Homo sapiens: one gene and its partners. The protein of the gene in region 1 interacts with the protein of each later gene in a biochemical or structural test. Each region holds a gene or a part of one and is shown in the gene's direction. Other genes may lie near its edges. The genes, in order: MTOR, RPS6KB1, AKT1 and EIF4EBP1.

The links.
Region 2: of the proteins of MTOR (region 1) and RPS6KB1, one has a biochemical effect on the other in vitro, tested with the Homo sapiens proteins (18 studies listed by BioGRID and IntAct, with this or other methods).
Region 3: of the proteins of MTOR (region 1) and AKT1, one has a biochemical effect on the other in vitro, tested with the Homo sapiens proteins (19 studies listed by BioGRID and IntAct, with this or other methods).
Region 4: of the proteins of MTOR (region 1) and EIF4EBP1, one has a biochemical effect on the other in vitro, tested with the Homo sapiens proteins (29 studies listed by BioGRID and IntAct, with this or other methods).

The regions. Positions count from the first base shown.
Region 1 is NC_000001.11:11,126,552-11,133,584, reverse strand, and holds part of MTOR (serine/threonine-protein kinase mTOR), read left to right. Parts: intron 1-387; coding exon 388-505; intron 506-2,807; coding exon 2,808-3,056; intron 3,057-3,746; coding exon 3,747-3,847; intron 3,848-4,633; coding exon 4,634-4,730; intron 4,731-5,032; coding exon 5,033-5,131; intron 5,132-5,458; coding exon 5,459-5,581; intron 5,582-5,778; coding exon 5,779-5,961; intron 5,962-6,440; coding exon 6,441-6,575; intron 6,576-6,788; coding exon 6,789-6,963; intron 6,964-7,033. UniProt on the Homo sapiens protein: Serine/threonine protein kinase which is a central regulator of cellular metabolism, growth and survival in response to hormones, growth factors, nutrients, energy and stress signals.
Region 2 is NC_000017.11:59,945,096-59,951,082, forward strand, and holds the end of RPS6KB1 (ribosomal protein S6 kinase beta-1), read left to right. Parts: intron 1-310; coding exon 311-423; intron 424-1,455; coding exon 1,456-1,693; 3' UTR 1,694-2,491; coding exon of another isoform or gene 2,492-2,507; 3' UTR 2,508-5,479; downstream 5,480-5,987. UniProt on the Homo sapiens protein: Serine/threonine-protein kinase that acts downstream of mTOR signaling in response to growth factors and nutrients to promote cell proliferation, cell growth and cell cycle progression.
Region 3 is NC_000014.9:104,792,749-104,800,568, reverse strand, and holds the start of AKT1 (RAC-alpha serine/threonine-protein kinase), read left to right. Parts: upstream 1-4,820; 5' UTR 4,821-5,085; intron 5,086-5,361; exon of another isoform or gene 5,362-7,264; 5' UTR 7,265-7,442; intron 7,443-7,820. UniProt on the Homo sapiens protein: AKT1 is one of 3 closely related serine/threonine-protein kinases (AKT1, AKT2 and AKT3) called the AKT kinase, and which regulate many processes including metabolism, proliferation, cell survival, growth and angiogenesis.
Region 4 is NC_000008.11:38,026,667-38,033,543, forward strand, and holds the start of EIF4EBP1 (eukaryotic translation initiation factor 4E-binding protein 1), read left to right. Parts: upstream 1-3,867; 5' UTR 3,868-3,907; coding exon 3,908-4,052; intron 4,053-6,877. UniProt on the Homo sapiens protein: Repressor of translation initiation that regulates EIF4E activity by preventing its assembly into the eIF4F complex: hypophosphorylated form competes with EIF4G1/EIF4G3 and strongly binds to EIF4E, leading to repress translation.

The DNA.
Region 1 (7,033 bases):
TAATCTCATTACAAAGAATGGAGGCAAAGGGAAAAGTAAGGGAGAAGCCATATAGCAATCAATAAAGAAGTAACTCTCAACTGTCACCCACAAAAAATTGGGTTTGGGGTAGGTAAGTCCATACAGACCTATCTGTACCAGGTACATGGTTTATGCTGTCATTGAGAGACAAAGGTCAAGATGGAAAGATGGTATCTTAAAAATGTATTCCAAAAGCCCATCTCCTTTCTTGCGTGTGGCTGAAAATTTTGCTAGCTCCTTCACATTGCCTCTTGAGAATAAGAGGAAATACCAGAAGGGCTTCAGTGTCCCCTAACAATTTGTGGTCCTCTTAGGAGGGCTGTTTTGAGGAGGGAATGTCATGGGGGCTTGTTTCTCTGCTTCCAGATGCTTCCTGAAACTTGGAGAGTGGCAGCTGAATCTACAGGGCATCAATGAGAGCACAATCCCCAAAGTGCTGCAGTACTACAGCGCCGCCACAGAGCACGACCGCAGCTGGTACAAGGTGATCAGAAGCAGGCCACCTGTGAGACCCAGCACCCTGGCTGGCTCGTGTCCTCCTGTGTGCTCGTGGTTACAGCTGAGCTTCTGCGGAGCTAGGCTGATGCTGTGAACTTACTCCTTGAGTCCCTGGAGCCTATCTATAAGAGGCCCAGGGAGCCTGCATTTCCCCCTACAAGTTTAATTAATACAGAAAGATTATTGGAGAAATACTTGTTACACCATTATTATGTGTATGTGGTGTTGGGGATTGCTGCTGTCTTACAGACTCTGAGCTGCTTGTTTTCCTGGGAGCATCTGGACACATGGTTAATCTCTGGAGTGACATCTTCCCTTAGGTCATCTGTTCTTGTTCAGCGTTTTTCTGATTTGCATCCTTGCCTGCTCCTCAGCTAAGAACTTAACTTTCTTTGTTTTTATTGGAAAGATCCAAGTAACATCCTGTTATGTTACAGGAAACTTTTGAAAGAGATAAACAGAATTAGAAAATATATAAAAGATGTGATTGATGGAGGGGTGATTTTTGGAAGTGTATATCTTTGGTGAGAATATACTTTCTTATTTCTTTTTGAGAGGCTTTCTGGTAACTACTTGGTGTGGCAGATGTCATTGACATCTTTCCAGTATTTCCTTGGCTTGCCAATACTTTGTGAATTAATCTCTCTGAAATCTAAACTTGTATCTGAGGACTGCAGAAGCACTTATAATACAGATCTTACCTTTGTTTAGGCATGCTTCATTCTGGTTTGAAAAATGTCCATTTTGTCATAAGAGTAATACTCTCTCTAGGACAGCTTGCATGTCCAAAGCTGGAAAATACATCCGGTAAACACTATTAACTGGAAGCTTATTAATCAGAGTTGTATTCTAACCAGAGTTACTTTCATTCATTAAGCTTTTAGGAAGTAAGCAAATCACAAGAAAAAAGTTGGTTTCAGGAACTTTAGTTTTAGTTTTTAAAAGCTTTTCCTAATGTGGGTCCCTTTTGTTTTATGATGTATTCTACCATCAACGTCATGGCCCTGTATGCATGCCAGGACTGTTTGTCTTGTTCACCTTGACCCCAGGTCATTGCCAGGCACATAGCAGATACACAAGAGATATTCAGTGAATAAATGAAGGTATGGGAAAACTGAAACCTGGGTCATTGTAGAATTCTTACTCATCAAGTAAAGGTTAGTTGTGATCAATCTATTCTCCTTAGTTGAGAAAACGGATACACCTGTGTTCAAGGTTTTTGGCAAGGCATACAAACGAATTTCCCAATTATTCAGAAAGTTCAGCTATTAATGGGTCACGTAGTGTCCTACTATCACTGCAAAGTTACCATGCCTGGAAGCAAACTCTGCCTCACACTCGCTAAACCAAGTGGTGGTACGCTGTAGAGTCATTGCCGCTCAGAACCCCAGAGAGAGTAGTATTCCTTTATCCAAATAAGCACCAGCGGTTCTTCCTTCAAGCATTGAGCACTGGTTCTCTGTCAGGCCGTGGGCTAGGTGTTGGGACCAGGCAGATGGGTGAGATTCTTTCTCTGTCAGGCTCCTATGCTCTTCATGTCTTCCTTTGTCCACTATCTGGTGACCTGTCAAAACTTTGCTCCCTTGAAATATTGTGATGACTGCTGCTTGCCCCCACTTCTGCTTGCCATTTCTGCTCTCCCCTAAATGTACACTTTATACCCAGTGCAGCTCTGCTTTCTGGGTGAAAGTGCCAGCCCTGTGCCTGCTCCAGGCGTGCTTTGCTGGCCTCGCTCTCACTCCTCGCCTGCATGTATCCCCTGCACGGTCACATTCATGGGCTTGTTTCCCGTGAACCAATCTGCACATCTCTGGCCTTATTCTTCCCCCTTGCCAAGTAGTCCCCACCGCTGCCTTCTTGTTTCCCTCCTTGCCCTTCTGCAGCTCTCTTCCAGACCTACCCCAAATCCCTCTTCTTGACAAAGCTTTCCAAATGCCTGTCCTTGCTACTCCCATTGTGCCTTGCAGAGTACCTAGGTCTTCAGGTTTGTGCGTGAGCTCCCCTAGGAGGCCGGGAGATCCCTTGAGGCAAGAGCTCTCTCCTGCTCCTCTTGCTGTGCCCTTCTCGCAGTGCACTCATAGTACGTTATATAGTTAGTGCTCCACAAAGTGAGTGGATCATGTTGAATTTAGTAAAACAGCCATTTCTGAGTGTCTCCTTGAAGTGTTTGCTTTATGGACACACAGAACAGGCAGGAGCAGCTGTTCCTCAGCATCGACCTTGCGCTCCTCTGAGCCCTGCTGTTGGTCACAGCTCCAGTGTCTGTCCTTGCCTTTCTCCCCAACCAGGCCTGGCATGCGTGGGCAGTGATGAACTTCGAAGCTGTGCTACACTACAAACATCAGAACCAAGCCCGCGATGAGAAGAAGAAACTGCGTCATGCCAGCGGGGCCAACATCACCAACGCCACCACTGCCGCCACCACGGCCGCCACTGCCACCACCACTGCCAGCACCGAGGGCAGCAACAGTGAGAGCGAGGCCGAGAGCACCGAGAACAGCCCCACCCCATCGCCGCTGCAGAAGAAGGTCACTGAGGTACCCTTCCCTTCTTCCTTATTAACAACCAACCAAGGTGCCAGGCTCTCTGAGAAATGGAATCGTTGTTAAGCTTAAAAGGAACCTGAGGCTGTATCTGAAGTGCCAGATGGAGCTGGAAAATACTGCCTATCTACCATCCAGCACTGCCTGAGATAGGGCTTTGTGTGTGAATATTTGTGTTTGGGGAGCTGACGCAGCCTCTATGCTGAAGAGCAAGCTCCTTGTCAAGCTTCCCTGTGGACGAGCTCATTCTCTACGTGCTGCACCTGTGTGTGGGTGGCTGTACACAGCTGCGGGTCCACTCTGAGGATGGGGCTTGGGAGGTCCATCCTCTGCCTTTTTCTCTCCACTTCCACTTCTTCCCCTTCCCCTTGGGCTGTCAGTTCAGAATGCGCCAGGGCCGCTGGCAGGCCCAGAGATCCGGGTGTTCAGAGCCTCAGCTCCACCTCCTCCCTCCATCCTGTTCAGGAAGCCACTGTCAGCCCAAGATAATAACAGTTATGATACAGTTGCCATTTATTGAGTCTTTGCTATGTGCCAGGTAATGATTAAAGATTTTTCATGCATTAACCGATTTAATTGTTATAACCACCCTTTGAAGTAGGTACAGTTAGTATGCTCTTATGCCCATTTTACAGATGAGAAAGCAGAGGCAAGAGTGTCGCTAACACGTGTGTGTTCCAACAGGATCTGTCCAAAACCCTCCTGATGTACACGGTGCCTGCCGTCCAGGGCTTCTTCCGTTCCATCTCCTTGTCACGAGGCAACAACCTCCAGGATACACTCAGGTATCAGAGAAGGGAAGGATGCAACTCTGGTAGGCCATGTTAATGGCAAGACCTAGAAGTCACACGTAAAAGTCCTCTTTCCCTTCCTGACCCTGATCAGGACACCCAAGATCGATGTATGTGCCTTTTTTCTGCACTGCATTTAAGGAGTAACAGCTGACTGGGCCCCACCTGTGTGGGTGAAACCTACAGAGAGTGAGGAGGAGAAGTGGAGTGAGAACTCTCCATGTGTGGTTTATTATGGAGGGATTATTAACCCATCTGTTAATCACAATATTTCTTTTTTTCTGACCACCCTGTTGCCTATTGAAGTCACAGTATTTCTAAAATCCCTCAGCAACTTGGAGAGGTCTAAACAAATGACTCAAATCAGTTAACCCAGAGGGTAAAGGTGACAAGGTCCACATCCTCCTTCATTTGAGGATCTCCAGCCAGCTAAGAGCCAGGTGTCCCTGTTGCCTCTGCCGTACAGCGACTCTTACATGTGCAGACTTGTGGCTTTCTAAAGGTTATCCTGGCTCGTCTGTTTGATGTTTGCATACATGCCATGGTGACCCCTCGGTGACCTGGGATGAAATGCTCATTTGCTCAGGGTGACTCTTACGGTGTTCAGTCAAGAGCACTGCCACCCATCACAGACACCTGCTCCCATGGGAGGCCAAACACATTTGAGAGTTACTGGTTGGAGTCCCTGCCAGCTCTCTTCTCAGGAGCCTTAGAGATGAAAAACAGGCAGGCAAAAACTGGGAAACTAAATTTTCTGTGACTTTCTCATTTCTTTTTCAGAGTTCTCACCTTATGGTTTGATTATGGTCACTGGCCAGATGTCAATGAGGCCTTAGTGGAGGGGGTGAAAGCCATCCAGATTGATACCTGGCTACAGGTGAGGATACTTGGTTACAGGTGAAGGTGGCTCCAAGTCTCTCTTCTGTGTGTCTCCTCTTACAAGCATGCTGTGTTCAGTGTCACAAGGCAGTGTGTGTTAATACAGTGCTAAGGAAGTAGGGCTCGGTCCCAGTGTCAAGTGTCCATATTTTCTTTATTTTCTTTTAGAAACTAAAGGGAAGGGAATGAACCATTTCAGAGCATCAACCGAAACAAGTTAAAAGAATTGATCTTTGCCTAGAAGAATAACTAGTTGTTTCAAGTCTCATATGCTACATACTGTGTCTTTTTGAATACCAGGTTATACCTCAGCTCATTGCAAGAATTGATACGCCCAGACCCTTGGTGGGACGTCTCATTCACCAGCTTCTCACAGACATTGGTCGGTACCACCCCCAGGTATGTGGAGACTCTGGGCAGTTTCTCATCTAACCACTGGTTTGGTGGTCAGCCTTTCCAAAAGCTGCCCTGGCGACACAAGCGCAGGAACTGGGAGCCATGTGTTCCATCCTGGCCCAGGAGGGTCTGTCCAGCCAGCCGTCCCAGAGGGCCCGGGAGCCTTGCTAAAAAGAAAGCGTTCCCTCGAAGACTGAGCCCCTTCCTGGTAGTCTCAAGCAGATGTTAATGTCACACTCACCACTTGTTTTGTTATTCTCCTTAAAATTCATACCAGCTCTTCCCCAACCCACATTTCCTTTATAGATGTTTCTTCTGTTTTTCCCTCAGGCCCTCATCTACCCACTGACAGTGGCTTCTAAGTCTACCACGACAGCCCGGCACAATGCAGCCAACAAGATTCTGAAGAACATGTGTGAGCACAGCAACACCCTGGTCCAGCAGGCCATGATGGTGGGTCGGAGCCACTGTGGGGCTTCATAGACCCTGGTCCCTTAGCTGGTGGGCGCAAGTGGGATTGTTTTTCTTCCTCGCATTGGTGCTGTGCACTTCCTCTGACTGCTGGAAATAGTACCTCCTGTGTCTCCAAAACAGACCTTTCTGAGGTTAGCTGATTCTTGATGCTTCTCTCCTTCTTCTCTTGGCTTCAGGTGAGCGAGGAGCTGATCCGAGTGGCCATCCTCTGGCATGAGATGTGGCATGAAGGCCTGGAAGAGGCATCTCGTTTGTACTTTGGGGAAAGGAACGTGAAAGGCATGTTTGAGGTGCTGGAGCCCTTGCATGCTATGATGGAACGGGGCCCCCAGACTCTGAAGGAAACATCCTTTAATCAGGTATGGGGTAAAAAACACGAAAGGACATAACCCTGTAGAAATATTCTGCCACTAAAAAAAAATGAAATGAGAAAAGTTTTTATAGAATGAAAGGACGTGACCCAAGGCCTTTGTCAGATTTCTTTTCCTCTGGCCTTTCCACTGACTTTAATAAAACGAGCTCTGATGGAGGTCACAGAGCATAAAACATCAGAAATTAGTTACAGGGACCCTTCTGAATTTTAACTGGAAAAGCCCAAGATTTCTCAAGAGGTCATCTCGTCTCTCCTCTCACCCTTCCTTCCCTATAAGCCATGCTGCTGGTTTGGAAGCTCCAGGGTTGGAGGCCTGCACCTATGCTCTTGCTTTCTCCAGCCCCCTGCCAGTGTTTTCAGGCCACAGCGGGCTCCTGAGGAATATCTGCAGTCAGCCTGGGGATTTTGCCTCCTGGGTTGGTTGAGACTTTGATAACTTGAAAACGTGCCTGCTTTCTCTCTCAGGCCTATGGTCGAGATTTAATGGAGGCCCAAGAGTGGTGCAGGAAGTACATGAAATCAGGGAATGTCAAGGACCTCACCCAAGCCTGGGACCTCTATTATCATGTGTTCCGACGAATCTCAAAGCAGCTGCCTCAGGTAGGATCTTCAGGCTCCTGGCAGGGTTAACTGTCATTATAGTCCTTTCTGTTTTACTGTCTATGAATGTTCTAACACTCATTCCAAAGCATCTGGTTTTACTTCTGCTTTGGGACAAGTAATTGTTATTAGCAATCCACTGAAAAATACTTAAATTGCGTTTAAATTCTTCCCTGGAGGCAGAACACTAAATCCTTTGGTAATTATTTACAGCTCACATCCTTAGAGCTGCAATATGTTTCCCCAAAACTTCTGATGTGCCGGGACCTTGAATTGGCTGTGCCAGGAACATATGACCCCAACCAGCCAATCATTCGCATTCAGTCCATAGCACCGTCTTTGCAAGTCATCACATCCAAGCAGAGGCCCCGGAAATTGACACTTATGGGTAAGGACCATTGTGCACTTCTGTCACCCACTTCTCCCTCCTACACTGGCTGAGACCCCTTCCCTCTTCT
Region 2 (5,987 bases), on another chromosome or scaffold:
CTGGGCGTATTTAACATCTTCATATGGAGCCTGAATTTTCCTGTTTTTTTTTCTATTCCTGTCAGTAGGGTAGAATTTTGTTTGCTAGCATATCAGGCTCAATGGAATTCTGCTTTCTTGAAGTGTGTGCCTCACGAAATGGCTGGAAAGAAGTTAACGGGTCTAAAAATGAGGTTGAGGACGTGGGAGAGTGTACACATTGGTGGTTTTAGGTGTGCATCATTGTGTAGGTATGTCAGACTGAACAACCCCATTCTCTTGAGATACATGACAAAATGCCATTCTGTAGTCCACTGTTACTGTCTTTCAGGGTTTTACATATGTGGCTCCATCTGTACTTGAAAGTGTGAAAGAAAAGTTTTCCTTTGAACCAAAAATCCGATCACCTCGAAGATTTATTGGCAGCCCACGAACACCTGTCAGGTATTTCACACTCTTATTTTCACTTTTTTTTGTTTTTAAACAACCTACAAGAGTGTTTGCTTAAGAAGTTTATGCCAAGTTATATAAATGAAAGACTGTCATACTCTCTTTGGTTGACATAAGCACAGCATCTATATCTTACATTGCAAAGGACTAGTCTGACTAATCTATGATGTTATATGGTTTACCTTCCCTCCCAAAAGTAAGCAGCCATACTGGCAAATGTCCTCTTTATCCATTCACTCAGCATTTATTGTGCACCAAGAGCACCAGCACTACATACTGCATGTTATGTGTGTGTATCTATATAGTACTATAATACAGGAATTGTCCCTGTCCTGATGAAGCTTACAATTTAGTGGGAAAGTCACAATAGACAAAGGATATACAAAAATATAATTACAAGTAGTGCAAAGTGCTATAATTTAAAAGGGGAAAAAAAGAATGTACTGGTAGAGAGCAGAGGAAAAACAAGGGGGCTTCTACTCACAGTGATCAGAGAAAGGCCTCCCTGGTGTAGTAACATCTAGCAGTGAACGGAAAGAGCCAGCCCTACAAAAATAGGAGGTATAAGAATGTTGCAGGCAGAAGAACAGCAAATGCAAAAACCCTGAGGGAGGAGAAAAGTTGCCCTTTTCCTGGAAGTGAAAGGGAAATCAGTGTTCCTGGAGTGTGTGGTGAGTGAGGAGAAGGGCAGAGGTTTGGAAAAGTATTTTATTTTAAATGCAATAGAAAGCTGTTTTGAGCAGGGGAGAGTAAAATGATATATATAATACGCATTTAAATGTATATATATCTCATTGAGGGTTTTGGGGGTCAGGTGTAGAGGTAAAGAGACCAGTTAGGAAATTCTAGCAGTTAATCTAGGTGGGGGAGAGATGGTTCAATTTTTGCCTTTGTGCTAATCCACGTGAAAATAAAATTAAATGAAAATAAATGTCATGTTACCCCACTCCCTTTAAACGTAAAGGAAATATGTCTTGTTGAGATGACCCTTAAGCAAATGAATGATAGCTCTTCCTTGTCTTAAAGCCCAGTCAAATTTTCTCCTGGGGATTTCTGGGGAAGAGGTGCTTCGGCCAGCACAGCAAATCCTCAGACACCTGTGGAATACCCAATGGAAACAAGTGGCATAGAGCAGATGGATGTGACAATGAGTGGGGAAGCATCGGCACCACTTCCAATACGACAGCCGAACTCTGGGCCATACAAAAAACAAGCTTTTCCCATGATCTCCAAACGGCCAGAGCACCTGCGTATGAATCTATGACAGAGCAATGCTTTTAATGAATTTAAGGCAAAAAAGGTGGAGAGGGAGATGTGTGAGCATCCTGCAAGGTGAAACGACTCAAAATGACAGTTTCAGAGAGTCAATGTCATTACATAGAACACTTCAGACACAGGAAAAATAAACGTGGATTTTAAAAAATCAATCAATGGTGCAAAAAAAAACTTAAAGCAAAATAGTATTGCTGAACTCTTAGGCACATCAATTAATTGATTCCTCGCGACATCTTCTCAACCTTATCAAGGATTTTCATGTTGATGACTCGAAACTGACAGTATTAAGGGTAGGATGTTGCTTCTGAATCACTGTTGAGTTCTGATTGTGTTGAAGAAGGGTTATCCTTTCATTAGGCAAAGTACAAAATTGCCTATAATACTTGCAACTAAGGACAAATTAGCATGCAAGCTTGGTCAAACTTTTTCCAGCAAAATGGAAGCAAAGACAAAAGAAACTTACCAATTGATGTTTTACGTGCAAACAACCTGAATCTTTTTTTTATATAAATATATATTTTTCAAATAGATTTTTGATTCAGCTCATTATGAAAAACATCCCAAACTTTAAAATGCGAAATTATTGGTTGGTGTGAAGAAAGCCAGACAACTTCTGTTTCTTCTCTTGGTGAAATAATAAAATGCAAATGAATCATTGTTAACCACAGCTGTGGCTCGTTTGAGGGATTGGGGTGGACCTGGGGTTTATTTTCAGTAACCCAGCTGCAATACCTGTCTGTAATATGAGAAAAAAAAAATGAATCTATTTAATCATTTCTACTTGCAGTACTGCTATGTGCTAAGCTTAACTGGAAGCCTTGGAATGGGCATAAGTTGTATGTCCTACATTTCATCATTGTCCCGGGCCTGCATTGCACTGGAAAAAAAAATCGCCACCTGTTCTTACACCAGTATTTGGTTCAAGACACCAAATGTCTTCAGCCCATGGCTGAAGAACAACAGAAGAGAGTCAGGATAAAAAATACATACTGTGGTCGGCAAGGTGAGGGAGATAGGGATATCCAGGGGAAGAGGGTGTTGCTGTGGCCCACTCTCTGTCTAATCTCTTTACAGCAAATTGGTAAGATTTTCAGTTTTACTTCTTTCTACTGTTTCTGCTGTCTACCTTCCTTATATTTTTTTCCTCAACAGTTTTAAAAAGAAAAAAAGGTCTATTTTTTTTTCTCCTATACTTGGGCTACATTTTTTGATTGTAAAAATATTTGATGGCCTTTTGATGAATGTCTTCCACAGTAAAGAAAACTTAGTGGCTTAATTTAGGAAACATGTTAACAGGACACTATGTTTTTGAAATTGTAACAAAATCTACATAAATGATTTACAGGTTAAAAGAATAAAAATAAAGGTAACTTTACCTTTCTTAAATATTTCCTGCCTTAAAGAGAGCATTTCCATGACTTTAGCTGGTGAAAGGGTTTAATATCTGCAGAGCTTTATAAAAATATATTTCAGTGCATACTGGTATAATAGATGATCATGCAGTTGCAGTTGAGTTGTATCACCTTTTTTGTTTGTCTTTTATAATGTCTTCAGTCTGAGTGTGCAAAGTCAATTTGTAATATTTTGCAACCCTAGGATTTTTTTAAATAGATGCTGCTTGCTATGTTTTCAAACCTTTTTGAGCCATAGGATCCAAGCCATAAAATTCTTTATGCATGTTGAATTCAGTCAGAAAAGAGCAAGGCTTTGCTTTTTGAAATTGCAACTCAAATGAGATGGGATGAAATCCTATGACAGTAAGCAAAAACAGAACCATGAAAAATGATTGGACATACACCTTTTCAATTGTGGCAATAATTGAAAGAATCGATAAAAGTTCATCTTTGGACAGAAAGCCTTTAAAAAAAAAATCACTCCCTCTTCCCCCTCCTCCCTTATTGCAGCAGCCTACTGAGAACTTTGACTGTTGCTGGTAAATTAGAAGCTACAATAATAATTAAGGGCAGAAATTATACTTAAAAAGTGCAGATCCTTGTTCTTTGACAATTTGTGATGTCTGAAAAAACAGAACCCGAAAAGCTATGGTGATATGTACAGGCATTATTTCAGACTGTAAATGGCTTGTGATACTCTTGATACTTGTTTTCAAATATGTTTACTAACTGTAGTGTTGACTGCCTGACCAAATTCCAGTGAAACTTATACACCAAAATATTCTTCCTAGGTCCTATTTGCTAGTAACATGAGCACTGTGATTGGCTGGCTATAACCACCCCAGTTAAACCATTTTCATAATTAGTAGTGCCAGCAATAGTGGCAAACACTGCAACTTTTCTGCATAAAAAGCATTAATTGCACAGCTACCATCCACACAAATACATAGTTTTTCTGACTTCACATTTATTAAGTGAAATTTATTTCCCATGCTGTGGAAAGTTTATTGAGAACTTGTTTCATAAATGGATATCCCTACTATGACTGTGAAAACATGTCAAGTGTCACATTAGTGTCACAGACAGAAAGCACACACCTATGCAATATGGCTTATCTATATTTATTTGTAAAAATCCAAGCATAGTTTAAAATATGATGTCGATATTACTAGTCTTGAGTTTCTAAGAGGGTTCTTTATGTTATACCAGGTAAGTGTATAAAAGAGATTAAGTGCTTTTTTTTCATCACTTGATTATTTTCTTTAAAATCAGCTATTACAGGATATTTTTTTATTTTATACATGCTGTTTTTTAATTAAAATATAATCACTGAAGTTTACTAATTTGATTTTATAAGGTTTGTAGCATTACAGAATAACTAAACTGGGATTTATAAACCAGCTGTGATTAACAATGTAAAGTATTAATTATTGAACTTTGAACCAGATTTTTAGGAAAATTATGTTCTTTTTCCCCCTTTATGGTCTTAACTAATTTGAATCCTTCAAGAAGGATTTTTCCATACTATTTTTTAAGATAGAAGATAATTTGTGGGCAGGGGTGGAGGATGCATGTATGATACTCCATAAATTCAACATTCTTTACTATAGGTAATGAATGATTATAAACAAGATGCATCTTAGATAGTATTAATATACTGAGCCTTGGATTATATATTTAATATAGGACCTATTTTGAATATTCAGTTAATCATATGGTTCCTAGCTTACAAGGGCTAGATCTAAGATTATTCCCATGAGAAATGTTGAATTTATGAAGAATAGATTTTAAGGCTTTGAAAATGGTTAATTTCTCAAAAACATCAATGTCCAAACATCTACCTTTTTTCATAGGAGTAGACACTAGCAAGCTGGACAAACTATCACAAAAGTATTTGTCACACATAACCTGTGGTCTGTTGCTGATTAATACAGTACTTTTTCTTGTGTGATTCTTAACATTATAGCACAAGTATTATCTCAGTGGATTATCCGGAATAACATCTGAAAGATGGGTTCATCTATGTTTGTGTTTGCTCTTTAAACTATTGTTTCTCCTATCCCAAGTTCGCTTTGCATCTATCAGTAAATAAAATTCTTCAGCTGCCTTATTAGGAGTGCTATGAGGGTAACACCTGTTCTGCTTTTCATCTTGTATTTAGTTGACTGTATTATTTGATTTCGGATTGAATGAATGTAAATAGAAATTAAATGCAAATTTGAATGAACATAAATAGAAGTGATTTATTTTTTTATTATCTTAAAGATAGGAAGGAATTAGTATACGTATCAGGTGTATAAATGGTTTAAATTTATTTTAACATGTCAGATGTGTTCAAGTTGTCATATAAATAAACTATGTATGTAAGGAATGGGTTAAAAGCTGTTCTGCTGAGAAACTGAAGCTATTTAAGTATATAACAAGTTTTAGTATTGATTTTTAAGTTAGATGTTACACATCTTTGATTTTCAAGTTATGTCAGATAGTAGATATGAATTGTTTACTTAAAAAAATACATGTAACAATCTACGTGAAAGCTAGCTTCATAAAAAACTCTAGGAAGACCTTCTTGTGCTAACAATCAACAATCTGTTCAGCTACACTTGGTCAGCTACATTTGATAATTTGATATGTATGCACAAAATAACGTAGTGAACAAATGTGTTTTAACTAATGTCTCAATATATCTAGTGTAAGCTGGGTATTTTGCATTAACCACTTCTTTTCTGTGAGGTAATTATACCACACTTGCCAAGGGGATTTCTCTACAGAAGCTCTCAAACTGATCTTACCTTGCTATACAACATAGTAGCCTATCAATACTGGTAAAACAATCTTTTAGAAGCCATGATCTGAATTCACAGAGTAAATGAGTTTCTGAATCTACAT
Region 3 (7,820 bases), on another chromosome or scaffold:
GGCGCGCTCCAACTTGGCTGGCCCAGCGCCGCCCGCCGCTCGCCCCGCCCCAGAGAGAGCGAAACTCGGGGCGGGGGCCGGAGGGGGCGGGCCGAGCGACTTCCCGGAGCGGCGGAACCGCTGAGGTCACCCTCGCCCCCCCTTCCCTGTCCGCCCCACCCGGCCGGGCCCCGCGCGCAGCCAGCAGGGGCGCTGGGGTGTGAGGGGGGTTTAGGGCACTGCGCGGGGGCAGGGGGTCTCTCGCGATACTTGGCGCTTTGGCCTGGGTCCCCCACCTCCCAACCTTTCCCGGCATGGGGTCCTTACTGCGCCAGTCTGCAAAAGGAACCCTTCCGAGGGTCCGCTTGTATCCCAGCCCGCGTTGGGCAGTCACCCGAGGGTAAACCCGGGACCCTGGCCTCCCGCCACCTCGCAGGGCGCCGGCCTTGGGATGGCGTAGGGGTTGCGTGGATTGGGGGTCGTTAATTTTGCAAAGATGACACCTCCTTCTTCCTTGAAAGCCTCTTTTTGAATTTAATTCAGCTGGGACCCTCTTCCAAACATTCAAGCAGGATGTCGATCCTAGAGTCCAGAACGGGGACTTCCACCCTCTCCACAGACCCCAGCCCAGCGTCTATGGGGGACCCAGCGCAGAGAGGCACGGAAAACGGGCACCTCCCAGCAGACATGGTGGCACGGGGGGACAAACGCCATAACAGAGACAGTCGGAAGCCCTCCAGAGCCCAGGGTAGGCAGGAACGTGTTCAAAGAGGAGGAGACTCCGGACAGGGGCTGGCATGGGAGTGGGGGTAGGGAGGAGTGGGGGAAAGTGTTCTAGGGCAAAGAAGCATTGAGAAGATGTGAGGGGGACGCCTGGTTGTGGGAGAGGGAATCGCCAGAGAAGTAGAGAGTGTGTTTGGCGGGGTTAGGGTCCCTCCCAGGCAGATGGAGCCTTTTCCCAGGGGCACAACCTGGGCTGCCCTTGACTGAGCAGGTTTGAAGGTACTCTAGACCACCGGATCATCTTCACAACAGTCCCATTAACTAGACGCTCTTATTTTCATACCTTTTTGGTGAGAGAGTTTAGGTAAGGTACCCAGAGCCATGTATCAGGCAGTAAGTCACTGAACCACGATTTGAATTCAGCCGGTCTCATTCTTCTCTGCCTTGGAGTCCGGGAAATGGAGAATGTAGTGGAGGAGTCACCCCAGTCAAGGCCAAGCAGTGGGGTGGGGGTGGTGCTGGAAGAGGGGCTGGATCACAAAGGACAGGACCCGGCCAGGTATGTGTGTGCAGGAGGAGTGGAGCCCACAGTGGGATCTGAAGTCTGGGAAGGAAGGCCTCGTTGTTATACTAAAATATCATTCCTTGTTTCACCGGATGGACTGCATCTTTATTTCCTAAACCTGGCAACTGCAGCTTGGACCCCTGGAATGACACTGCACTTACAGCCACTGAGACTAGCTTAGGGACGGCAGAGGCCTGGCTCCCACTGCCGCCGGCCATCCACCCTAAGGACCCCTTCCTGAGGAAGGTCAACTCCCCTCTCTCCACGCATTTAAATAATCATCTGCCTTGCCCCAGCCACCAGCAGGAATAGCTGAATTCAAGTAAGTTAAGGGTGAACTCAGATGTGACTGCTCCCTTCCTGCCCTGCCTGGATCACAGCCCTGCCCCGGCCCCTCCCAACCTTGAGCACGACCAAACCTTTAACCTCTTTGAACCTCAGTAATCCTCATCTGCAAAATGGGAGTCAGAGTGCATCCCGGGGTCTTCGTGAACATTAACGACAGGGCCTGGCACTCAGCAAGCTCTCAGGCTCTGGAATGTTCTTCCCCAAAGAACCCTTCACTGGTTTCTCTTCATCCCTGTCTCTGCTGAAAGTCCACTCCTTAGTCAGGGTGGCCATTCCTGCCCACCTTCGCTAAGTTCCCTCGCAGTCCCTTCTGCTGCATACCCTCCTTTCCAGCCCATTCCGGGTGTCCTGTGATTGTGGGATATTCCAGCACCTTCTGAAAGGGAAGGGGCTGTTTGGTCACTTGGTGCTTAAAAGTTGGCAGGACGCAAGTGGGTGTTCAGTAAATGTTTGTTGAGTGAATGTGTGACGGTTGCTTCTGTGAGTGATTACGATGGTCCCACCATCCCTAATCCTGACTCCTCTGTGGCAACATTCCAGCCCTGCCTGCCCACACCCCCAGCCCCTGAACCTTCAGAGCAAGTAGGGGTGGCCTGCCACACTGGGGCTCTGGGCAACAGGCTGACAGCTCCCCACTGCAGGCTGGGAGCAAGCACCCTAGCCTGCCCTGCCTGGCTGGCGGGACAGAGAGAGCCTGGACACTTAATGGGGGTTGTGGTACACAGGGAGGGTCAGGATGCTGCCTTCAGGAGCCTAGGGTAGGACCTGGAAGGAGGGCCCAGCTAGGAATGGGCTAGATGAAGGGGAGGGGACAGTGGGAGAGAAGCTCCTTATCCCTCTCAGGTCGGGATGTCTGGGTTCAAGTCCCTCCTGCCCCACACCGATCAGGGAAGGGGGGCTGTTCCAGGCAGAGACCGCCCAGAGTTGGTGCTGGGATCCTGGCCAGCCTGTAGTCCTCAGAGCCCCTGTGACTGGCTGGGTCTCAAGTGCAGGAATGACAGGACACCGTCACACAGCCACTGTCGCGGCGGTGGTGGTTCAGGCAGAACCTCTGCAGACTCAGGCGGCCATCTGGCCTGGGAGCTGCCCTGAGGCCCCGCCCTGCAGCTGCTGCTGGGACCTACACAGCCCAGGGCCCTCGAGTCCTGCCCCCGGCCAGCAGCTGCAGAAGGTGACAGGGCAGGAGGCCCCTGAGCTCTGGGAGGAGGCAGCCGTCGGGCCCTTCCCTGGTGCAGCAGTTTTTGTCGGAAACATCTGGCCACAGAGCACCTCAGCAGTCCCAGCAGCAGCCGTGGGGCTGGGTTCTCTCCTGACCATTCTGTCTGGGGTGGGAGGGGGTGTTCTTGAAGAGAGGACTCTGCTTTCCCTCTGGGACGCTGGAGGAGAGGGAGATGGCCCTGCCCACTGGGAGATCCCCGTCTTGGGGGAGGGCAGTTCATGCCAAGGTGAAGACAGGACTGGAGTGTGGGGCCCACAGTGGGTTGCAGGCACCAGCAGATGCCAGGGCACCAGGCTGGGAAGACTGGGAGGCCTCCTTGGAGACAGCCAGTGCAAAATAAGCAAGAGGTCCAACCACTTCAAGAACAGCCCGCAATGTCACTGCCTCTTCCATGAGAGGGTGCCCTGCTCCCTCCCACATCCCCAAGCCTCGGCCACTTGCTGGCCTTGTCTCATGGCCCTCTTACCCTCTGCTTCCTCCCTGAATTCCTTCCTCCATCCTTGCATGGCAGAGCCCAGGATGGTGGACAGATACCAGGAACTCTTCCTCGGGGAGCAGTGGGCAGGTGGGACAGTCCCAGAGGGAGCCCCAGGTGGCTCATGGTGCAGGTTTGCTGGGTGAGAGACAGACACCAGACGCCCAGGCTCTGGGGGCAACCCTTGTGTCAGGTATCCCACCCAAGCGGCGCAGACCACTGGGCCTCTGACTTGGCCCCCTGGAGGTGGGCCCTTCCTGGGGTTACAAAGTCTGAGCTGGGAGGGAGCAGAGGTGCTCAGGCGAGAGGCAGGAATGGGGAGTCCCCTGTCTGAGGAGCGAGTGCCCTCATGCAGGGGGAGAGAGTCCTTCTCTTGGTCAGCCCCAAGAGGCAGGGATGAAGCCCGAGTTTTGGCTGCAGACTCTGTCCTGAGCACTGGGCCGAACCTGCTGCCTCTGTCTGCATCTCCTCCCACCCCCTCCCCTGCTGCCAGCTGAACTCACTCTGGCTGAAAATAAAAATGCTCCCCCAACCCCAATACTTAGCAGCCTCAGGAAGGTAACTCACAAGAGTCTGTCTTTCACAAAAGGGTTATTATCAACTGTGGGCCTCTGGAATGGGGGAGGGGCAGTTGTCGGAGGAACTTCTGGCTAGGAAGGGGTCGGGGTGGCAGTCACCTGCACTCTCCTGTGAGTGTCCAGGAGAAAGGGGTCTGTGTCCCACTTACTCATTCCATACCCGGGCCATCTGCCTCCCAGTGGACTTCGGACTGGGTGTCCGGGCTGACCAAGTCCACCCAGCAGGGAGGGCTCTGGGCTGTCAGCTGTCACAGCCCACCCTAGACACCGCTCCTCCTCTGTCTGGTGTCTGCTCCCAGCTCAAGGTGGGAGCCAGGCAAGGTGTGCCCCTCTTCTCCCACTCCCCAGCAAAGTCCCCCTTTTGTGAGTGTAGCTGCCAGTACCTAGGTGAATGGTTGACTCCCCTCGGAGCCTTCCTGCTCCTTGGAGGCCCACCTCCAACTGACCTCCTGTCCTGGCATCCTCCCGCACTTCCCCCAGAGGCACAAGGTCTTGGGATTGGGCCTTTTAGGTCACTCTTGGCCGCCCCCTCCACGCCCCCCAGAGTGGGGCAGCCTGAAAGTCAACCTAAGCCACCCCCGCCCCGCGCGCGGAGGCAGAAGTCCGGGATTCGTCCCTGACCTGTCTCGGGCCCCTTCTGCTAGGGTCACGGCAGAGCGAGCCCAGAAGCGCCGGGTCACTTTACAGACGGGGAAACTGAGGCCAGAGAGGGCGTGGCCCCGGGACGGGCTGGCTGGTGGCCGGGCTCCGTTAGCGGCCCAGCCCAGGCCCCAGGTCGTCGGGAGCTGCCCCTCAGCCCGGCCGCGCGCTCCCCGAGCGCGCTCCGCCCTCGCCGCCGGCCGCGCGGTGGGGACGCCCCGGGCGGCGGAGGCGGATGTGGGCGGGCGGCTCCGGGCGCGGGGCGGGCGCGGGGCGGGGAGAGGGCGGGCCGGCGGCGGCGGCAGGACCGAGCGCGGCAGGCGGCTGGCCCAGCGCACGCAGCGCGGCCCGAAGACGGGAGCAGGCGGCCGAGCACCGAGCGCTGGGCACCGGGCACCGAGCGGCGGCGGCACGCGAGGCCCGGCCCCGAGCAGCGCCCCCGCCCGCCGCGGCCTCCAGCCCGGCCCCGCCCAGCGCCGGCCCGCGGGGATGCGGAGCGGCGGGCGCCGGAGGCCGCGGCCCGGCTAGGCCCGCGCTCGCGCCCGGACGCGGCGGCCCGGTGAGTCCCCGCCCGCCGTGGCCGCCCGGGCCTGGATTTCCTCCCCGCGGGCCGGGCCGCTTTGTTCGCGGCCGGTCGGGCCGGGGCGCGAGCCGCGGCGCCGCCAGAATGGAGGAGCGGGAGCAGGAAGTGGCCGAGCGGGCCTGGGCGGGGAGGGCGCGGGGCGCGCGGGCCCGGCCAAGGGAGGGCGGCCCCACGCCGGGCGCCGGGGGTGCAGGCTGCCGGCCCCAGCCTCCCTCATGACCTTGGGGAGGCCGCTCCGCCGGGCGAGGCCGGGACCCGAGAGAAGGGACGCCGCCGGGCCTGGAGCTGGGGCTCGGGGTGCCCCTGCGGGCCGTGGGGCTCCCCGGGCGCTGGGCCAGCGAGGCAGCCGGCGGAGGTGCCCCGGGGTTGGAGAAAGACTCGCCGCGGCCGGCCTTCAAGTTTGTGGGAGGGCCCCGGAAGGAGACTTCGTTTCCCACGGACGAAAAGTTGTACGTGGTGGCGGGGTACCCAGGCTAGCCACAAAGGACTGTGACCCTCCTGGGCCCCGGAACTGCTTCCTGTCTTGGGTGGGCCCTGGAGGTCCTGCCCGCCCATCCCAGAGGCCAAGGCTTGGAGGGCAGCTGGGGCTTGCCCCTTAGATTGAGTATCCTGGGGCGCTAGCGAGCTTGGTCCTGTCGGGACGGCCTCTGAGTGCTGCCTTGGTCAGCGGGTGAGCTTGGGCCCCTGCTCTGCAGCCAGAGGCCGCCCCACATTCACTCCTGGGTCTCTCGGCCTTGCTCCAGGTGGCCACTTCTTGACTGCTTTGAGTCCCTCATCCGAGCGAAGGGCGGACGGAGTCCGTTGGTGGGGGTCCGGTTGCCTCTCCCGGGAGCTGTGTAGACTTCTCATACACCAGGGTTCTGGAGGCAGATGGAGGAGCCCTTTCGAAAACAGAGTATTTTTTTTTAAGTTGTGACTTAATAATAGTAGCAAGAATATGTGCTTATGGTAAAGGCAGGCGGCAGGTACGGAGGCTGTGGGAAGTCGGGGTCCCTCCGCCCCCACAGGCAGCCCTGTGCTGGCCTGGTGTATACGTTTCTGTGCAGACGTACACCACCCTGTGTGAGCACAGATGTATTTTTACACATGGCTCTGGACAGCTGTCTGACTCTGTCAGCAGCAGGCCTTGGAGGGGCTCAGGCCCGTGTGGGGGTGGGGGGACATCCAGAGGTCTTTGAGTCCAGCCCTCTGCCTCCAGGCCACGCCCACTCAGTGTCGTCAGAGCCCCCTGTGCCTGAGGCGTGCGCGGCTCGGAGCCCTGCCCTCGGAGTCCTGCGGTGCCTTCCTCGAGTCTGGCCTGCTTTCCATCCTGCTAAGTACTTGGGGCATTTCCCTCTTTGGGTAAGGTGTGGTCTTCCCTGTCCTGGCATTAGACACAAGGCAGTGGGCCTTCCTGCCATTCTAAGTGTAGCTTAAGACAATCAGTGCAAAGCAACCCTTTGTGGGTGTCCAGCCCTTGCCTCGGGAGGCCAGAAAGGTGGCCTGGGGGGAGAGCGTCTAAGCTGGCTGTGGAAAGACCCATGTTGGGATCCATTCCACAGAGGTCGTCAGGGGTCTCTGCCTGGCCTGGAGGTCCCAGAGAGGACCCTCCTCCCCTCAGGAAGGCCCATCTGGAAGGGTAGCAGAGGACTGCTCACAGGAAGAGCATGCGAAGTGCTCTTTCTGGGGATGCCTGTAGTTGGTGATGTGGGAACTGGGTTTTGAGGGATGCCTAGGAGTTCATCCATCAGAGGGGAAATGAGGAAGCCATGCAGGATCAATGGATAAAGTGTGCTCAGGTGAGGGTTGGCTGGTGGGCCGCTGCAGGGCGGGGGCCTGTCCAGTGCTCCCCCACTTACTTGCTGCCTCCCGACTGCTGTAATTATGGGTCTGTAACCACCCTGGACTGGGTGCTCCTCACTGACGGACTTGTCTGAACCTCTCTTTGTCTCCAGCGCCCAGCACTGGGCCTGGCAAAACCTGAGACGCCCGGTACATGTTGGCCAAATGAATGAACCAGATTCAGACCGGCAGGGGCGCTGTGGTTTAGGAGGGGCCTGGGGTTTCTCCCAGGAGGTTTTTGGGCTTGCGCTGGAGGGCTCTGGACTCCCGTTTGCGCCAGTGGCCTGCATCCTGGTCCTGTCTTCCTCATGTTTGAATTTCTTTGCTTTCCTAGTCTGGGGAGCAGGGAGGAGCCCTGTGCCCTGTCCCAGGATCCATGGGTAGGAACACCATGGACAGGGAGAGCAAACGGGGCCATCTGTCACCAGGGGCTTAGGGAAGGCCGAGCCAGCCTGGGTCAAAGAAGTCAAAGGGGCTGCCTGGAGGAGGCAGCCTGTCAGCTGGTGCATCAGGTTAGGGAGGCTGGGAAGGCCTTTTGGGGATGGGGGTGATTTGTCCAACGGCTGGGGGAGGTGGGAATGGGGAGGTGAGCAAGGCAGCAGCTCTCAGGGCCTGGCTGTTGCGGGTGGTGGTGGCAGGGGCTGGAGGCTCTAAGCCTAGAATAAGGAGAGGCCCAGGTCCAGGGAACTGTGTTCAATTACATGGATTTGACACTTGGCAGCCCTGAGTGTTTTGGGGAGAGGGAAGGCAGGCGGGCAGATGGGGGTCAGAGAGCTTAGAGGGATGGCAGCCCACCTGGGAAGGCAGGTGCGGGTGGAGCCCCCAGGCACGTGCAGTGGGTCTCTGGCTCACCCAGGGCGAGGAGCTGCCCTTAGCCAGGCGTGGCCTCA
Region 4 (6,877 bases), on another chromosome or scaffold:
CTGTTGCCCAGGCTGGTCTCAAACTCCTGGCCTCAAGCCATCCTCTCACCTTGGCTTGCCAAAGTGTGGAAATCATAGGAGTAAGCCACTGCACCCAGCCTTGGCTATACACTGTTAAGTTATAGTGTCCACACCCTATATAGTCTTTAGTGCAGCATTATTATTAATAGGTTAATTTATGGCTACTTGTGACAATAGCAAGCAGTTTCAAGAGATGAATACATAGCTCAAAAGGGGGTAGTGGGACGTGATTGCTGTCTCATTTTAATGTCTAGGCCTGATAATTTAAAAGGATTCCCATTCCTCAGATAAAAGCTGTTTTTTCCATATGAATGAGTTCCTGCTCTAGAAAAAGGTAGAGGGGCCAGTCACAGTGGCTCATGCCTGTAATCCCAAAACTTTAAGAGGCTGAGGAGGGAGGATCACTTGAGGCCAGGAGTTTGAGACCAACCTAGGTAACATAGCAAGATCTCATTTCTACAAAAATTTTTTTTTTTTTGAGATGGAGTCTTGCTGTTGCCCAGGCTAAAGTGTAGTGGCAGGATCTTGGCTCACTGCAACCTATGCCTCCTGGGTTCAAGTGATTCTCCTGTCTCAGCCTCCTGAGTAGCTGGGATTACAGGCACACACCACCACGCCTGGCTAATTTTTGTATTTTTAGTAGAGACAGGGTTTCACCATGTTGGCCAGGTGGTCTCCTGACCTCAGGTGATCTGTCTGCCTCGGCCTCCCAAAGTGCTGGGATTACAGGCATGAGCCACCTCGCCCGGCCAAAAAATTCTTTTCTTTAATTAGCCAAGTGCAGTGGCATGCACCTGTAATCCCAGCCACTGGGGAGGCTGAGGTGGGAGGATGGCTTGAGCCCAGGAGTTGGAAGCTGCACTGAGTTATGATTGTGCCTATAATTAGCCACTGCACTCCAGCCCAGGCAACAGAGTGAAACTCTTTTTTTTTTTGAGATGGAGTCTCGCTCTGTCACCCAGGATGGGTGCAGTGGCACGATCTCAGCCCACTGCAACTTCTGCCTCCCAGTTTGAAGCGATTATCCTGCCTTAGCCTCCCGAGTAGCTGGGACTACAGGCGTCTGCCATCATGCCCGGGTAATTTTTTTTTTTCGTATTTTTAGTAGAGATGGGGTTTCACCGTGTTAGCCAGGATGGTCTCAATCTCCTGACCTCGTGATCTGCCCCCCTCGGCCTACCAAAGTGTTGGGATTACAGGCGTGAGCCACCACACCCGGCCTGAAACTCTCTCTTTTTTGAAACAAGGTCTTACTATGTTGCCCAGGCTGGTCTCTGAACTCCCGGCCTCAAGCAATCCTCTGGCCTTGTAATCCCAGCTAGGGCTGGGATTACAAGTGCACATCGCTGCAACCAGCAAGGCCTGGTCTATTTTTATCTTATATTATTTATTTATTTTTTGAGCCCTGGCTGGAGTGCAGTGGTGCAATCTTGGCTCATGGCAACCTCCACCTCTGGGGCTCAGGTCATCTTCCTACCTCATCCTTGAAAGTAGCTGGGACCACAGGTGTGAGCCACAACACTGGGCTAATTTTTAAATTTTTTTGTAGAGACAGAGTTTCACCATGTTGCCCAGGCTTGTCTCAAACTCCTGAGCCCAAGCAGTCTGCTCACCTCGGTCTCCAAATGTGCTGGTATTACAGGTGTGATCCACAGCACCTGGATGAAATTAATTTTTTTTTTTTTTTTTTTTTGAGACGGAGTCTCACTCTGTCACCCAGGCTGGAGTGCAGTGGCAGATCTCTACTCACTACAACCTCTGCCTCCCAGGTTCAAGCAATTCTCCACCTCAGCCTCCCGAGTAGCTGGGATTACAGGCACCCGCCACTGTGCCCGGTCTGTTGTTTTTGTTTGTTTGTTTGTTTGTTTTGTTTTTTTGTATTTTTAGTAGAGACAGGGTTTCACCATCTTGGCCAGGCTGGTCTTGAACTCCTGACCTCATGATCCACCCGCCTAGGCCTCCCAAAGTGGTGGGATTACAGGCGTGAGCCACTGCACCCAGCCGAAATTTATTTTTTTTTCTTTTGAGACAGAGTCTTGCTCTGACGCCAGGCTGGAGTGCAGTGGCATGATTTCAGCTCACTGCAACCTCTGCCTCCCAGGTTCAAGCAATTCTCCTGCCTCAGCCTCCCGAGTAGCTGGGACTACAGGCATGCGCCACCATGCCCAGCTAATTTTTTTTATATTTTTAGTAGAGACAGGGTTTCACCATGTTGTCCAGGATGGTCTCGATCTCTTGACCTCATGATCCGCCTGCCTCGGCCTCCCAACGTGTTGGGATTACAGGCGTGAGCCACTGCGCCTGGCCCAAAATTAATTTTTATAATGTATTTTTCTTAACCCAGTATACTCAAAATATTATCAGTTCAACATACAATCAATATAGAAACAAATTATTCAGGTATTTTACATGATTTTCTTCACACTAAGTCTTTGAAATATGGTGTGTATGTTAAACTTGTGACAGTTTGGACTGGTCACATTTGGAGTGCTCAATGTGCACCTGTAGCTGGTGGCTACTGTCTTAGCCACTGTAGGCCTAAAGTTTCCCTCAAAAGTGAGACCAAACTCAACAGGTCTCCCTATCTCAGGCCTTGCCCTCCTTGGCCCATTCTGAAACTCCACTGGCTACTAGTTATCCTTCCAAAAAACAACTCAAATCATGTCATCCCCCTGCTTAAAAGATCTCTGATATCTCCTGCCCTTCTAAGACAAAGTCCAAGCACTTTGGCATAATTTGAAAAACTCAACGACCTGACCCCAATTTCCTTTTTAAAAAATTATTATATATTTTTTTAGAGATAGGGTCTCTGTCACAAAGGGTGGAGTGCAGTGGTGTGATCACAGCTCACTGGAGCCTCAAACCCCTGGGCTCAAGCATCCTCCAGCCTCAGCTTCCTGAGTAGCTGGGATTACAGGTGCACCACCCAATTTCCCTTTTAAACTGCCCTCCCCTCTTCACCCTCTTCCCCACAATATGTGCCCATAATGCTAAGAACTTCTCAAACCCAACAAGCTTTTCCATCCTCGGTCCTTCTTGCATTTTTCTCTCTCCCCTTGAACATCCATCCATCCATCCATCCATCCATCCATCCATCCATCCATCCAAGGAGTACCTACTAAACCTCAGGTGGACGTTGGACTCAATTCAGGGGCTATCGGGAAACCTCTTCGACACTCTTACTCCTCTCCAACGCCCTTCCCCACCACCCACCTCTGCGCCCCCAGCTCTAAATTTAGCTCCCAGGACGCCGCTGGTTGGTTCACTCCTCCTCCCACACCCTCTCTAAAGGCCGGGAACGGAATTGTTAGCCCCTCCACCCCCACCCCCATCAAGGTCAAGAAATTGAAGCGGGGCGGGGGGCGGTGAGCATAACTACTCAATCCCCATTTTCTCATCTGAGGAACTAAGGCACGAAACAGGGAGTGCCGAAGGGTACACCAGGCCTGATGTCCTAATGCAGAAACCGGGCCTTCCTGCAGTGGGCCGGGTCAGCTCGGATCTCCGCGCGGTCCTGAGTCGCCGCCCCCAACCCAGCCAAGGATTAATTTAGGCGAGCTATCCCGCCCGCCATCCCCATATCCGTCCCTGCCAGCGTGGCGGGGAGGGACCCCGGACGGAGGGGCAGTCGCTGCGGGGCGGCGCCAGCGCCCGTGCGGAAGAGCCCGTGAGCAGACGGGAGTGGGTCGGGGGGCGGCGGGGGATCCCACGTGGAAGCAGCGTCCTGGAGCTGGGTGGGGCTGCGGCGCGGACTACAAATCCCAGGGGCGTGGGGCGGGAGAGGCGGAAGGGGCGTCCTGGGGCGGGGCGGCACGGGGCGAGGCGGAGCGAGGCTGGAGGCGCGGGAGGGCAGCGAGAGGTTCGCGGGTGCAGCGCACAGGAGACCATGTCCGGGGGCAGCAGCTGCAGCCAGACCCCAAGCCGGGCCATCCCCGCCACTCGCCGGGTGGTGCTCGGCGACGGCGTGCAGCTCCCGCCCGGGGACTACAGCACGACCCCCGGCGGCACGCTCTTCAGCACCACCCCGGGAGGTAGGCGCGGGCTTGGCGACGCCGCTTGCCGGCTCCTGGGCGGGCGGGAGGATCGGGAATCGCGGATTGGACCGGGTGTCCAGGCTCAAGGGCGCCGTGATTGGAAAGAACGGAAAAGGGGCATCGGAGAGACAGCGAGGGTCATGGAAGTGGCCGCCCGCTTCCCCTCTGAGTGCGTCTTCCAGACCCGAGTTACAAACTGCCCCGTTTGTTTCCTCTTTCTGTTAGGTGTCAGACAGCTGACACCTAACAAACACGCACGCCTCCAGGACAGCCACATGCCGAGCTGTGCTGCCCCTTGTGGGTGTTGGGGGCGCTCCCGAAGCGGGAGAGGGCGGAGTTAGGGTGGCCCACGATCCAGGAGAGGCCTGGCCTGGTGTTTTTATGGGATGGGTATTATCTGTTGGGATAAACGATTCCTGCAGGGCCCTTTTTCCTTCCCGAAGCACGCCGAGTTTTGTGTTGGACTCGCGCGCTCTGACTGAGGTTCGGATCTGGGGGTGCTTGCCTGCTCCAGCAGCGCCTCCCGGGCACCTGTGGCACGTTCCCCATTTACGCGAGTGGGATCTCCGCGGGGGGGACCCTGGCGCCACGGCCAGGGCTGTGCAGAAAAACACGTTCTTCTGTCCGGGGAGAGGAGGAGGCACCGTGTGACCTCCCTGGGAGAGGATGAGGAAGAGGAAGCTGAGCTGGCACGGGTGGGGGGGCCAGCCTCGGGCTGCCCTCAGGAACCTGGCATTCCCTCCCAGCCCCGGAGCCCCAGCGCACAGACGCTGATGAAACCTACGCGCCTGTTTGCATGATGAAATAAATCCTCGTGGCTCTCTCCTCCCCTCTCATTGTCGCACTGCCCCCACCCCTTTTTGCTCCTCTCCCTTCATTCTCCTCCACGCTGCTTTCCATACTACTAGAAAACGCGACAGATCCTGGCGCTTGGCTAGGTGGCGGGCGGGGGCCACATGCTTATTTTCTCAGGCAGCTGTCCCACCAGCAGCGAGCGCGGCCAGATCCGAGGTCCTCTGCTGTTTGATCCAAAACATACACTGTTAGAACGGTTAGGGATCTTGTCCAGCCCTGCCGTCTTATTCTACAGAGCCCGGCATTGAGGCCCCAGAGCTTGAACACGTGTCTGTTGCCCATTGTCACACCGTTTTCCCAGATTGGACAAGAAATAGCAACCAGGCAGAGAAGGGAGAAATGCTTCCTTTTCTATTAGAAATGAGCCAAGGAAAAGCTCGCAGGGGCTCTTGTTGCCATTCCCGACTCATCCTCTTTCCCTTGCTGGGTCTTTTGTAGTCCATGCTGTTCTCCTTTGTCTCTGTCACAATGGTCTACCAGGACAATTCCTGACAATTTTGGAGTTCTTTCAAATGAGGGTGTAAGTGTCTGCTGGATTTGTTCAGGGTGGGCCCTGAGGCCGGCCTGAAGGCGCAGGTAGCCCTTTTTTGCACTCTTTATTGCTGGATTGTTGGGTCAAATTGGAAGCCAGGATACTGTTTATAGGCACTTCTGGCCCGGGTACCAAGGTTCACACCTGTAATGCCAGCATTTTGGGGAGCCAAGGCAGGAGAATTGCTTGAGGCCAGGAGTTCAAGACCAGCCTGGGCAACATAGTGAGACTCCATCTCTACAAAGAAACAAACAAAACAACAACAAAATGTTGTCCTAGCTACTACAGAGGCTGAGGCCAGAGGATCGCTTGAGCCCAGGAGTTGGAGGCTGTAGTGAGCTATGATTGACCACTGCACTCCAGCCTGGGTGACAGAGCGAGACCCTATCTCTAAAATAAATAATAAATATAAAATATAGGAACTTCAAATCCACTTTTCACTTTGGGTTGGGAAGTGGGGAGTGGGCAGGGGGCTGACAGACCACAGCAAATCCCCTTCCCTTTGAAGGTCTTTAGCAGTAGGGGGAGTGGGGAAGGGACTTCTGCATCAGGGCATAGCATATGTTTCTGAGATCACTGGAAGAAGCTAGCAGTGCCAGGAGCCTAAAGCCAGCTCACTGTTTGGTCGTCCAGTGGAGCAGGTACAGCTCACAGTCCCTAAGCCAGGGAAACCTGGCTGACTTCCACTAAAGTCAAGCAAGCCTGGTCGGCCTCGATTAGCCAAGGTGTGGACTCTTCCTCCAAAGCCCACCTCAGCCCACCTCTGCCAGGGCAGAGAAGCCAAAATGGTCACATTGCAGCCAAAATGGTCACACCCTTTTGCTCCAGAGCAGAATACTGCCTCTCAGTCTTCCAGGTGCTTGAGGATAACTGGGGGCTTCATTTAAGTGCATATTCTGATTCTGTAGGTGGGGGTGGGAACTAGATTCAGCATTTCTTTCTTTTCTTTCTTTCTTTTTTTTTTTTTTTTTTTTGAGACAGGGTCTCACTCTATCACCCAGGCTGGAGTGCAGTGGCGCAATCTCAGCTCACAGCAACCTCCACCTCCTGGGTTCAAGCAATCCTCCCACCCCAGCCTCCCCAATAACTGGGACAACAGGCATGCACCACCCATGCCCAGCTGATTTTTGTATTTTTTGGTAGAGACGGGGGTTTCACCATGTTGACCAGGCTGGTCTCAAACTCCTGGCCTCAAGTGATCTGCCTGCCTCGGCCTTCCAGAATGCTGGGATTACAGGCGTGAGTCACCATGCCCGGCCTAGATTCAGCATTTCTAACTAGCTCTGACTGATTGGTGCACATACCACACTCTGAGTACTCAGGAATTAGTGAAACATAACTTCCCTCACCTTTCAGATCTCTGGAGTCTAGCAAAAAAAAAAAAAAGATGGCTCCATCCAGGTAAACTTTGATCTCTAAATCGTGGTGTGGAGAG